Regions from separate parts of the Homo sapiens genome. Here region 1 is reported to be linked to region 2. The links are microRNA targets in miRTarBase. Many come from high-throughput screens and were not tested one by one. Region 2 holds a microRNA gene; the other region holds the end of a gene's coding sequence.
The links. Region 2 holds the annotated microRNA hsa-miR-188-3p (CUCCCACAUGCAGGGUUUGCA, at 2,107-2,127, opposite strand). A microRNA usually pairs through its seed, bases 2 to 8, with sites in the 3' UTR of a target mRNA and lowers its output. Matches are read on the target gene's strand: a 7mer-m8 pairs with bases 2 to 8, a 7mer-A1 pairs with bases 2 to 7 and ends in A, and an 8mer does both.

Region 1 (7,122 bases), not on the chromosome of region 2:
AGAAAACATAAAATAACCACGCCAAAAAGAGGAACGAAGCCAAAATGGGAGGATAAAATAACAAATATTACTCCAGGTAGTAACCTCAGGATGGAACAGGTTTTGCTGGAATTTTTAGCTAAAGCTTACCTATTACTTATGTTTTTCTTCTTGCAGATTTTAAACAAGTACGATTCCTGGATCTCATTCCTCAGCAGTGTAAGATATTGGATGGCTTTTAATATAGAAAGGGCCTGTCAGTCTTATTTTGGGTGTGTTCAGTGCATTAGTGGACCTCTGGGAATGTACAGAAACTCCTTGTTGCATGAGTTTGTGGAAGATTGGTACAATCAAGAATTTATGGGCAACCAATGTAGCTTTGGTGATGACAGGCATCTCACGAACCGGGTGCTGAGCCTGGGCTATGCAACAAAATACACAGCTCGATCTAAGTGCCTTACTGAAACACCTATAGAATATCTCAGATGGCTAAACCAGCAGACCCGTTGGAGCAAGTCCTACTTCCGAGAATGGCTGTACAATGCAATGTGGTTTCACAAACATCACTTGTGGATGACCTACGAAGCGATTATCACTGGATTCTTTCCTTTCTTTCTCATTGCCACAGTAATCCAGCTCTTCTACCGGGGTAAAATTTGGAACATTCTCCTCTTCTTGTTAACTGTCCAGCTAGTAGGTCTCATAAAATCATCTTTTGCCAGCTGCCTTAGAGGAAATATCGTCATGGTCTTCATGTCTCTCTACTCAGTGTTATACATGTCGAGTTTACTTCCCGCCAAGATGTTTGCAATTGCAACAATAAACAAAGCTGGGTGGGGCACATCAGGAAGGAAAACCATTGTTGTTAATTTCATAGGACTCATTCCAGTATCAGTTTGGTTTACAATCCTCCTGGGTGGTGTGATTTTCACCATTTATAAGGAGTCTAAAAGGCCATTTTCAGAATCCAAACAGACAGTTCTAATTGTTGGAACGTTGCTCTATGCATGCTATTGGGTCATGCTTTTGACGCTGTATGTAGTTCTCATCAATAAGTGTGGCAGGCGGAAGAAGGGACAACAATATGACATGGTGCTTGATGTATGATCTTCCATGTTTTGACGTTTGCAGTCACACACAACACCTTAGTTCCTCTAGGGGCTGTACAGTATTGTGGCATCAGATAATGCCACCAAAGGAGACATATCACTGCTGCTGGGACTTGAACAAAGACATTTATATGGGTTTATTTTCATTCTGCCAAAGTAAAACAATACATCAACAAGAAGAAACTCAGATTTAACCTGTTATTTCTATGAAAATGGGATGAATTCTTTGTTTATGCACTTTTTCCTTACTGTGCATCCGCCTGAAAGTGTTTTGCCCTATATACCTCACTAGCCATGCTTTATGTGGGTTATCATGGAAGAAAAGGATTTTGGAAACTCAAGGAAAAGTTCTTTCAACCTATACAACCTAACTTATGGACTGTTTTGATAGATGATAATTTTTTTTTTTTAGGAAGGATTTTCTTTTTAACTTTACCAAATGAAATGCCAAAGGAAGTTTTAAAGGCCGTTGGCTGTGCTGTATTTTGATATAATTGTACTGTGTTTTTAAATTTTGTATGCCAATCTTAAAGACAAATTTTGCATATTCTCTATTTTACTTTTCTGCCAAAATAAACCTGTTCTTCCTTTTTTAAAATAAAATAAGTTCTTAAAAAATTTATACTTAAAAAATCCTGCCCAAAATGTGAAGCTTGGTTGACTGATGTTCATGATAGAAAGAATAAAATGTTTCTCTCTCTCTACCTTTTAAAATTGAATAGTTTATTTCTGTGAAAGAAGTATTTAAACTTTCAATATTTTAACTTTTTGTTTTTATTTCTTTTAGAAAAGGCCAATATACCTATCACACTTTGGAAGTAAAAATACACACTTTCGTGTGTACCTAAAAAAAAAATCGTTGAAAATCAAGGCCAAAGGTAGTGCAATTTTTTCATTAAGATTTAAAAAAAAGGGAATGATAGTCTTTGAAAGAAAACAGTAGGCATCCAGCACTGGACAAAACATGGGTATCAAAGATGAATAATCTTTGGAGATTCTGGCAGTGTTTTCCCAGAACAAGTCAAGTGGAAAGTGGAGAAATTATCTGTATAATTTTGGACACATACAATGCAGTTTATCAAAGGTTTTGTTCTGTGGCCTGAATTTACTGGGTCCTACCTACACATTGAACATGTTTTGCCTGTCTTTTTTTTTTTTTTCAACTTGCCAGTTCACTTTACATGTTAGTATAATGTTTACACGGGTGAGTTGGATAAATTATAAAACATATAAATTCAAAATTGGCAGATAGAATCACCAAGTATCTATCCTCTTTTACTTTCAAATGAGGAATTTTGTTTTTCTGAATTACACAGATCATCACTTCCTATTTCCTGTTCTGGACCTGTATAAAAATGTCTACACAGTAGAAGTGACATCAAGGTTTAATAAGTATATCAATGATTGGCACATATAAAAATTGTTGAACCACATACTCTGAACTTGGCTAATTTAGTTACTGCAAGGCCTCCATTATCCAGTTTTATTTTTTACACGATTGACCTTGCCTTGTAGCTGGTGCTGTGTAGACCTGTGTTGAAAACACAATCGGAATATATGAATAATTGAATAAACAGCATTATGGTGAGGCAGAGACACATGGAGAAGTGTTAAAAAAAAAATGGGCTTCCTGCCTTTCTGCCTCTTTTTTATGCAGTCATCTATGTTACATCTATCCTGCCTAAGAAAAAGCTGCACATCCTACCTTCAGAGTACAAAAAGGTACATCTGAGACTCAAGACTCTCACTGATTGGAGAGCTTGTGGAAAACAAAACACACCATGCCAATAAATGAGATGAAAACTTGAGTTTGCCTTTTTAACTATTTATGTTCTAAGTTAAGCTTTGATAACATTCAAATGTCAAATTCTCTCATTCTTATAAAAAGTTGAATTAATTGCCTGTATTTATTTTAGCAATTATTCAATGTATTTCCAGTATAGGATGTATAGTATAATTAATTTTTTGTAAATAAAATATTTTTGATAAGATTATTGCCTTTTTTTCTAAGGGAAGGGGGAACTTTGTTTTCCTGATTATAATGGTATGAATTTAGGAAGGGGGGGTTTTAAAAAAAATGATGGTTGGTAAAAAAGAATATGTCATTTAATGTTACTTATTATTAGGTAGAAATCCCTAAAACTGGTGTGGTTTGAAAATCTGGAAAACCACAGAGAGAGGAGAGAGACTGCTTAATTATCATTACCCTTGTCTATAATCTTTTTCTTCTGCTTCCCTTGAAAGCAGCACAAATTTAGACAATTTTTTAAATTATAGTAACTTATAGCAGGAAAAAAAATCAAAGATATGCAGAAATATGATAAGCAAGCTTGTTTATTTCAGCATTATTCAGAAATAATAAAACCTTAACCTAAAATCAAATGATGAGGGCAATAATTAAATAAATCATGGCATTTCTAAAAAATGGGACATCATTAGCTATTGAACACAATGTTCTCAGAGAACACGTGGATTTTGGAGAAATGTCACATTAAAAAAATAACCATTTTGTACAGTAACATCCCAATTTTATAAAAGTGAAGATGTTTAAACATGATTATCTCTAATACTGGGAATGACTGATTTATATTCTGTATATGTTTTTGTATTTTCCAAATACTATAAATATGTTTTTATAATCAGGAAAAAAAAGACAATAAATATCATCTTTTTAAAAAGTGGGTTGGGACATCTAACAGCATTTTCTGATTAGAGGAACTTTGATAGTAATTATCTCATTTTACCTCTTATCCCTCAAATTCATCTTATTTCCCAGTTCTTTTGTGTTATCTGTTTTCTAAGAATCCTTCATTACTTTTGTACTGCTACATTATAAACTATAGCCACTGAACATTATTGTCAGATAATCCAGAAATATTGATGGTTCTAAACTTAATAATTCACTGATGAAGTCACTTGGTGACAGTCTTTTAATGTAAAGAGCCTTAAAGTATACATTTTAGGACTGGGCATGGTAACACACGCCTGTAACTCCAGCAGTGTGGGAGGATTGCTTGAGGCCAGGATTTTGAGACTAGCCTGGGCAACATGGCAGGACCCAGTCTCTACAAACAATTTTTTTTTTTAATTAGCCAGGTGTGGGCGTTGCCTGTGGTCCCAGCTACTCAGAAGGCTGAAGTGGGAGGATTGCTTTAGCCCCAGAGGTCGAGGAGGCTACAGTGAGCTGTGTTTGCAGTACTGCACTGCAGTCTCGGCAACAAGAATGAGAACTTATCTCAAAAACAAAACAAAACAAAACAAAACAAAAAAAACCCCCACAAAACTATTCTTAATTCACCAGCATTACCAAAACAGGCAACAAGCCAGATATATCCTGCAGCCCATAGTTAATGACCCCTGCTCTTTAGAAATCTGTGGACTTATCTGTACCATTAAGTACTCACACTGACACCTAATTTTTGAGCACATACTATGTTTTAGGCACTACCAGAAGCATGCTTTATAGATTAGTTATTATGTCAGTCCCAAGAAGTTCCATTATTATTACCATTTTAAGCGAGGAAGCTGAGTGAAGTTTAAAGAAATTTGGTAACTTAATATTATAAAGCCAGTACATTGTAGTGGTGGAATTTAGGTCCAGACATTATGACATCAAGCTTGCCCCTTCAACTAATGCTACTCAGTATTTCATCCACTGTCCGGCAGCATCAGCAGCATGTGGGAATTTATTAGAAATGCAAGTTCGTAGCTTTACCCCAGGCCTACTGAATCAAATTCTCTGGAGAATCTGTTTAATAAGATTCCCATCCAGGTGACTTTTAAACACATTAAAGTTTGAGAAGCATTGCCCTAATCTAGTATCTTATATTGTTCCCTTCAAACCGCATATCATTTCGAAGATAGTTATTCATTCAAATATTGTATTCTCCCATTGAACTTTTCTACTTTAATATAATTTATGGGTGTTGGCAGATATCTGGTTTTAACTAAGTTTATTAAGTACCTGTTATAGGCTGGGCACTGTGGCTCACGCCTGCAATCCCAGCACTTTGGGAGGCCGAGGTGGGTGGATCACTTGAGGTCAGGAGTTCGAGACCAGCCTGGCCAACATGGTGAAACCCCGTCTCTACTAAATATGCAAAAATTAGCCGGGCATGGGGACTTATGCCTGTAATCCCAGCTACTCTGGAGGCTGAGGCGCGAGAATCACTTGAACCCGGGAGGTGGAGGTTGCAATGAGTGGACATCATGCCACTGCACTCCAAACTAGGCAACAGAGTGAGACTCTGTCTCAAAAAAAGAAAAAAGTTCCTGTCACGGGCAAGAAATGAAGTGGTGTACACTGTGTCTATACTCAAAGAGCTTACAATTGAGTAAGAGGGATATTTACACTGTAAGTAAGAGGGTAATTACACTGGGATTTGATGTGAAATAGAATAATACTCTTTATACAGAGTGGCATGGGATGTAAAAAGAAGAAGGTGAACATGTACAATTAGCCTCATAACGGCAGGTTTTAAGATAGCCTGGTATTTAGGTTGATTCTTTAAAGACGTGCAAACTTGGATGGGAATTAATGATTTTTCAGGTAAAAGAACATGAATACAGCGATAGTGGTGTGCTTTTAATATGTTGTCCTTTAAACAGAATTAACATTTAATTAAAGTGGAAGTTGTAGTTAACCAAGAGTGGGACATGACTATAGATAGTAAATTTGAAGGCCGGGCATGGTGGCTCACGCCTGTAATCCCAGCACTTTGGGAGGCCGAGGCAGGCGGATCACCTTAGGTCAGGAGTTCGAGACCAGCTTGGCCAACACGGCGAAACTCCGTCTCTACTAAAAATACAAAAATTAGCCGGGCGTGGTGGCACATGCCTGTAGTCCCAGCTACTCAGGATGCTGAAGCCAGAGAATTGCTTGAACCCAGGAGGTGGAGGTTGCAGTGAGCCGAGTTCACGCCATTGCACTCCAGCCTGGGCAACAGAGCAAGACTGTCTCAAAAAAAAAAAAAAAAAAAAAAACAAGTAAATTTGAAGATGGACGATAGAAGACCATAACACAACTGGGAGAAATACTAGAATGAGATATTTACATTACTTTTGATAGATGACACACCCATGGAATTTTTGGACAGGGTTCTAACATTGTCATAAAATAAGGCACTTTATGATGTTTGGTTTCAAAGATCTCACAGAAACAATTGTGTTTATAATTACGATTTGGCCTGAGCATGCTTGTAATAAACTGGTATTTCTCTCCCAGGCACCTGACCACATTCATTGTATTTCTTCCAAGGCTGCCTCTTGCTTTACATTCTCAGGTCATCGCCTCTTGCCAATTACCCAAGCACTCTCTTCAGCTTTGTTTTGGTATAAGAAGCCCGCAACCAGCTAGTTATTATAGTCATTTGATCCCACCTTTGCCATGTCATTCAAATTCATCTCTCATCCTTGTTAAGACTTTTTAAATCTCTTACCTGAACTGTTGAAAATACCTCCTGATGGCTGGGCGCAGTGGCTCTCGCCTGTAATACCAACACTTTGGGAGGCCGAGGCGAGCAGATCACCTGAGCTCAGGAGTTCGAGACAAGCCTGGCCAACATGGCAAAAACCCGTCTCTACTAAAAATACAAAAATTACCTGGGCATGGTGGCATATGCCTGTAGTCCCAGCTACTGGGGAGGCTGAGGCAGGAGAATCGCTTGAACCAGGGAGGCAGAGGTTGCAGTGAGCCAAGATCACGCCACTGCACTCCAGCCTGGCACAGAGTGAGACTCTGTCTAAAAAAAAAAAAAAGAAAAAGAAAATACCTCCTGACTACCTTTCTATTCTCCATTTCTGTTTCATCCAATGGATTCTTTGCATTTCTGTTAAAATTATCATTCTAAGGCCCAATTCTGAATACAAAGATTTAACTTCACCTCATTGTCAACAAAAGCATTAAATATGTAAGAAATTATTCAAGACTGATGATTATCTATTTTCTCCCTTGCAGTCCTTTACTCCTATTTTTCATGTCCTACTAAACTAGATTTTTTTGCTCCCTCTTGAACACACTTTGCCCTTCTCCTCT
Region 2 (7,124 bases):
ATGGGGCACTGGAGCTTCACTGAAGGCAAGAACTGCAATGGATTAAAAGTCCAAATATATTTAAATCTATGAGTTTATTATAATAGTTTTTTTAAAAAATCCTCTTTAGAGTAAGCTAGTGAACCAACTCATTATTCTGAGTACTGATAAATAAAGAGAACCAAACATTTATCCTATCTTGCCTATAAAGACGGCAACACTGGGTGATCAAATAGCAGATGAAGGGAAGTTTTTCTTTATAGAAGTATTCCAGCTAATAAATCAAGAGAATAATGGGATTAGAATATCATCATTTTGCAACCCCTAATGAAATAACGGCTCTAAGAATTGAGCATCGGTGGCAACTAACATCACAGAAAGATGATCATCAGTTATTTTGTGCCTCTTAATGGAAGTAGTTCTGCTCCCCCTTCCTCAAAATTAAGCCTGAATTTGATCAGGCTTCCAGATGCAACTATCAGTTTACAGGAAATACAAACAAGGAGAAGGAACATGTAAACTACATCACAGGGATGTGATCACAAAAATCCAGACTATGCAAAACTGTATAGGATGAATGGCCCACTTTCTTCCAACAAATAAATTATAAGGAAAGAAAAAATATAGATGGAAGGGAAAGATATAATTCAAAGGGACTTAAGATACATATCAACCAAATGCAATGCATGGACCTTATCTGGATCCTAATTTATGATATTTCTGAGACAAGTGGAAATGGGAACAACAGATATGTGATGATATTAAAAAATTGTTGGCAATTTTTTTTCTTTTTGAGATGAAGCCTCGCTCTTGTCACCCAGGCTGGAGCGCAGTGGCACGATCTTGGCTCACTGCAACCTCCGCCTCCCGGGTTCAAGCGATTCTCCTGCCTCAGCCTCCCGAGTAGCTGGGATTACAGGCACCTGCCACCAGGCCTGACTAATTTTTGTATTTTTAGTAGAGACGGGGTTTCACCATGTTGGCCAGGCTGGTCTTGAATTCCTAACCTCAGGTGATCTGCCTACCTTAGCCTCCCACAAAGTGCTGAGATTACAGGCATGAGCCCCTGTGCCTGGATGGTAATTATTTTTAAGTGTGATAATGGTATGATTTTTTTTTTAAAAGCGGCCTTAGATTTTAGAGATACATAGTAATTATCAGCTTTCCCTTTTTCCATTGTAACTTACTACTTCCCAGCCCTATGCTTCTGCCACAATGGCTCTTTGTTGTTCCTAGAACACAGTAGGCCTTTCCTGACTACCCTATTTGATATCGAAACTTCTCCACCACCATCTATGCTGTAACTACCCCCACCCACTCCTTGTCCCCTTTTCCTGCCTTATTATTCTCCAGAGCACTTATCAACAATTGGCACACTATCTATTACTTACTTATTTTGTTCACTACCTGCCTCCCCTCACTAGGGCAGGGATTCTTGTCTTTTGGTCACTGGTGTATCCCTGGTGCATAGGGGAGTACCCAACACACAGTAGCTGCTCGATAAATATTTGCTGAATGAATGAGTGGCTCACCAAATGAATCGGCTGCAAATCCTGGGTCTGGGGAGATAACAGAGAAAACTCACAATCTGACTCATATCTACATGAGTGTCTAAGAAGACAGATCTTCACACACCCTCTTGAGCAAACAAGTGTGCATATGGAAAGGCATGGCACAGTGAGTGGATTCTACTTTCTGAACCCAAAATGTGTGTGCATATTACATCTTTGCATATGGTTATGATATAGACACAATTTTCCTCACAAACTGGGTTTGTGAGAATTAGCTAGAAGACTCCCTTTTCATCATGCCCCATGTACAGGAGTCCTGAGAAGGTTCTCTCTCCTCCTCTAGGTGCCGCTAAGACAGAACCAGGTCAAAAGACCCCCCTTCCTTCTCTAGGCTGTGCCTATCCCTGAGTATGAGGGGCTGCACCATGTGCAAGAGAAAGCTAAGAGAAGTCTCCCTCTCCTGCAGGATCCATGTAAGACTGAGATGGGAGAAAGGACATGGCTGAGAGTCATTCTCCTTCCCACCACATGGGTGTGTGTTTTTCTTTTGGTGAAGGAGTGCGTATGTGTATATACACATGCACAAGAGAGCAAGGAAAGCTGAGGCTCGCCATCCTGCAAACCCTGCATGTGGGAGGGGTTTTCAGAAAGCTCACCCTCCACCATGCAAGGGATGTGAGAGAGGGAGCAGGGAAGGGCTTGCTCTCTTGGCACGACATATGGGTATGCTCTAGGAGGCAAGAGGCACTGGCCTGGGGGGTGCAAGTGGGCAGCAAGATAGCCACAGGAGTGCTGATGGGTAAACTAGGAGCAGTGGCCATGGAAGCAGGACAGTCATCCAGATGGGATGGCTGCTAACAGTGTACCCCACATACAGAGCACGTAAGAGAGGGTCTACCTCCCTTTGGTGTACCTGTCCATGTGCTCATGCCTATGCACTGGAGAGGGAAGAGAAGGCTCGCTCTTCTGCAAGCCTTGGGTGTGGGAGGGTAATTAAGATGCCAACGGTCCTACACTCAAGGCATGGAGGAGAGAAAGCAAGTCGGGAGGTCTGCTCTCCTGTATACTGTGTGCATGCGTATCCCAGATGCCTTGGACTTCTATGACTGTGCCCCAGACATGCTGTAATGAGAAGGTGTGCTTGTGTACATTCACATATGTACCTTCAGAAATGTTCACTATCTACAACATATTTGTTTTCCTTCCTTCTTTCTTTTCCTTTATTTTTATTCCTAACACCAGTATAGTATTTACATTTGCAGAGCACTGTTTTAAGTGCTTTTCACACATAGCTCATTTATTCTCATAAAATATCCATGAGGTGATCATTATCCCTATTTTACAGATGAAATAACACACATACGAGAACAGATGGTAAGAAAGCTTAGAATCTGGCATGCAGGTCATTAGAAAGAGGACTCAAAAAAGGAGGCTCAAGCTCTCAGCCACCAACCACTTTGTGTCCACACACACACCACACACACACACACACACACACACACACACACACAGAGAGAGAGAGAGAGAGACAGAGACAGAGACAGAGACAGAGAGACAGACAGACAGACAGACGCAAGAGAACTTGCACTTGTCAGCCCAGGGAAAAGCTGGATTAGTGTGGAAATAATAGAGGAAGTGAGAAGTATGAGAAGTGGCTGTGTGGTCAGATTAGACATGTATTTTGAAAGTAGAGCCAACAAGATTTGACAGCAGTTTGTATTTGGAGAATGGAGGGGAAAAAGTGTCAAAGATGAATCCAAAACCTTTAGCTTATTAAAATTCTCCATATCCTTGGCATATGCAATTGGGAAATGCTGTTTGCTGAGTTGGAGAACACAGAGGGAGGAGTAGGGCTTTTTGAGAGGGGGAGGAAAACCAGGACCTCAGCTTTGGATGTGTTAAAGTTTTGAGATACTTATTAGACATTCGGGGCAGATGTCCAGTACATAGTTGGACATAGGCATCTGGAATTCAGGAGAGAAGTCCAGGCTGGAAATACAAACACAGAAATCATCCACATAAAATGGTACTTAGAGTTGCAAGACAAGATGAGAACAGCTGAGGACTAATGAGAAGTTAAAAAAAAAAAAAGAAGTCTGAAGACTAAGCCCTATATCTCTTTAATACTTAGAATTCAGGAAGAGGAGGAGAAACCATCAAGAGACTGAGAAAGAGAGGCTTGTGAGGTAAGAAGACAACCTCATGAGTGTGGAATCCTGGAAAGCAGGTAGAGTCTCAAGGCAGAGGGAGTGATCAACTGTGTGTTGATCTGTCAAGTAAGATGACAACATTGCCCAGTAAATTGGGAAATGTGAAGGACACTGGGGACCTTGACCAGGGTCATTTAAGTGCTGCAGGTTACAGTTTTACATGGAGGGTTTTCAAGAGTAAATGGGACTAACATTTAAGTCTTTAATCCATCTTGAATTAATTTTTGTATAAGGTGTAAGGAAGGGATCCAAGGACAGAAAACCAAACACCACATGTTCTCACTCATAGGTGGGAATTGAACAATGAGAACACTTGGACACAGGAAGGGGAACATCACACATCGGGGCCTGTCATGGGGTGGGGGGAGGGGGGAGGGATAGCATTAGGAGATATACCTAATGTAAATGACAAGTTAACGGGTGCAGCACACCAACATGGCACATGTATGCATATGTAACAAACCTGCATGTTGTGCACATGTACCCTAGAACTTAAAGTATACATTTAAAAAAAAGAGTAAATGGGAGAAATAGAAGTAGAGATGGAGTACAATCAGCTCCTTCAAAAAAATTTTTTTTTTTTCTGTAAAGAGGAACAGAGAAATGAGTAGAAACTGGAGGAGCTTTTTGGGTAGAGAAGGTAGTGCTTTTTAATTTTTAAAATTATTTTTAGACAGGATATGTGGCAGCACATCTAGATATTGGTACAAACACTCCAGTATACAAAGAACAGTTGATGATGCAGTAAGGAGAGGGGGATCAATTGCAGGAGCACTGTCACTGAATAGGTGACAGGGGTTGAAATCTAGTATACAAGTGGAGGAACTGGTCCTGGCTACATGTGCCAGTAATTCATCTACCATAATGGGGAGGAGCTGACACTTAGGGACATGTGCAGGTAATGGAGGAGAGGTCAGAGGAACTTCAGAGGGTCCCTTCTGATGGCTTCCATTTTCTCAAGGAAGAAGAAAGCAAAGTCAGCAGCTGAGAGTGAGGAGGAAGGAAGGGAGGTGACACTGCAGATTTGAGGAAAGGAAAGAATTATGAAACAGTCATCCAAGGCAGTACTTCCCAAACATTTTCAAATAATGGGACCAAGCAGCTTAGGTGTGAGTTTTCTTCTATGGAGAATCAGTTGCTCCAGGCAAAGCATATGGATTAAGGAAGTTTATTACATGTTAATCCCAATACATGCGTCGCCTCCTTCAGTGCTTATTACAAACCTATATGGTTGGCACAATTAGTTATCTCATTTTCATGTTGTGGAAATTGAGACACAAGATAAGTCACTTGTCTAGGATCACAAAGCTCATTACAGATCACGCCAGGATTCTACCACAGGTAATCTGACTACCAAGACAGTGGGCCTAACCACTGAACCCTAAAGCTGTGTGTACCCACATGTGTATGAGAACTGAAAATGATAAGGACCCACTTTCTGGCACATCCTTGGCACACACATGTGAGATGAGGGAGGAAAAGGAAGAGAGAAAGAGCAAGGATGGAGAATAAGGAGGCTCAAGCTCCTATCATAAATGTGTGTGGGGGCATGCACAGAAAAGGGGTAATAAGGTGGCTGACACAGTGGTTCACACGCCACTGTGGCCCAGCCAGTGTGTGCATTGGGAGGTTGTAATAACCTCCCAATTGGGAGGTCAGTTTTATTTTAGGTTAAGCCATGCGTGGGGTAGGAGAGTGGCAGCAATAGAAGGCTCACAGTCCTGCGATGCTGGATGCAATGGGGCAACTCAGGTGTCTCCCTTACATGCATATCATGAGTGTATGCACATGAGAGAAAGAAAGAGAAAAGCAGGATTAGAGAGAGAGGCTGCAAGCAGGAGGCGGATGGGGAAACCCACAGTCCAACAGGTTTGGGGAAGCATATTTAAAATAAAAAGCTCACTGTAGTTCTGTGTGGTCAAGGTGGGATGGGATAGCTTGAGAGGCTTGCACCCCTGCATGGGGCAGGAGAGCTGGGGGAGTGGAGAGCAGAGACAGGGCAGATATAGGAAGAATGCTCACTGATGAATCCTAGCAAATTTTTAAAATATCATAAATTTCATACTATTTTTACAATGTAAATAACTGTCATTCAAACAATGCTCCACAACCTTTAAAACAAGTAAAAAAAGGGGCTTTTAATGTACAGACTAAGAAAGCAAATGTATTCGTTGTAGCACAATTCTCATATTCTATTCCGCAGGTATCAGCTGCTTGACAACACCAACTATAGTGAAAAGAGCCAAATATGTGTTCACACTGACACTTTTTCTTTAGTCTTTAAACTTGCTGGCCAACAGAGTATAGCTTAGAAACTGCCCACCATCCTTAATGGATCAACTGCCATTTCTGAACTTATTTTTCCCCTCAGCTAAAAGGGGCAGATTATTTTTTTTATTCCTCAACACATCTACCATACAAAGCAAACACTAACAGGCCGAAGGATTCATCTCCCTCGTGGTGTACATGTGTGTACACATGTGAAGGCACATGTGCCTGTGCCAGAGCCAGTTTTTTTAGGCCCACTATCCTTCAAATACTTCAACTCAGCAAGTTAAAAAAAAAAAAAAAAAGCAAAGTCCACTCTCCAATAATGCATGCTTGTGGGAAGAGCACTAAGAAGGCATGCTGGGTTTAAGAGGCAGGGCACAGCTCAGAAAGCTTGCACATCTGTAAACCTCATGTGTGGGAGGGAACTGAGACAGCTCACACCCCAATGTGTGAGGCATGTGAGACAAACAGGTAAGGAGTCACCTCCTCTCTCCCTCACAGACAGAGGATGTACACAGACGTAGGTCTAAGGAGGCGTGGGGTGATCAGGAGCCTCATCATCTTGTACTCCTGTGTGCATCATCTGTGTCGGGGGTGGGGAGGGTGTCCCATAATAATGCTCACTCTTGCCAACAAGGCCTGTAAGAAGGGCACTAAACAATCTCGACTCTGGATGCTGGGTGAAAAAAAGCAAGGGGGCACATAGCCTATGGCGGGGGGGTGGCACTAGAAAATTCACTCTCCTGTAAGTTGTGTATATAAGAGTGGAATTAAAAAACACACACACTACCATTCAAGGCAAATGGGAGGGTGAACACATCAGATGTCTCAGACTGTGTGTGTGTGTGTAGAAGACTCAAGCCAGCAAACCCTTTGCAGTGTCATGCATGGGTGAAGGAGAGAAATAACAAGAAGGCAAGATGGCTTGCTCTCCCACAGACTCCACAAATAGGAATGGGATCAGGAAAGCTCTCTCTCCTACAGTCAAGACATATAGACGAGTGGTGGAGTCAGCAGGTTCTTCTTTCTGGCACTCTGAGTGTGAGAGGGAAGGAGGGAGGGAGGGAAGTAGAGAAGGCACATTAAGGTTCATTTGCCTGCAAACTTAAAATGTGGGAGGGGGATTGTGAAAATCCACACTCTGACACTTTGG

Region 1: the mRNA of HAS2 is a reported target of hsa-miR-188-3p. The part of its 3' UTR that is shown has no 7-base or 8-base seed match.

What each region holds. Positions count from the first base shown.
Region 1 is chr8:121,608,073-121,615,194 of GRCh38, reverse strand. HAS2 (hyaluronan synthase 2) reads left to right here. Exons shown (of 4, transcript NM_005328.3): 4 at 157-3,079. The coding sequence ends at 1,086. Among named protein-coding and RNA genes, the nearest start is that of HAS2, 30 kb to the left of the region's middle.
Region 2 is chrX:49,998,559-50,005,682 of GRCh38, reverse strand. MIR188 (microRNA 188) reads right to left here and starts at 2,180; the gene lies at 2,095-2,180. All of the region lies in intron 3 of CLCN5 (chloride voltage-gated channel 5), which reads right to left. It overlaps MIR532 (microRNA 532), which reads right to left and starts at 2,535; the gene lies at 2,445-2,535.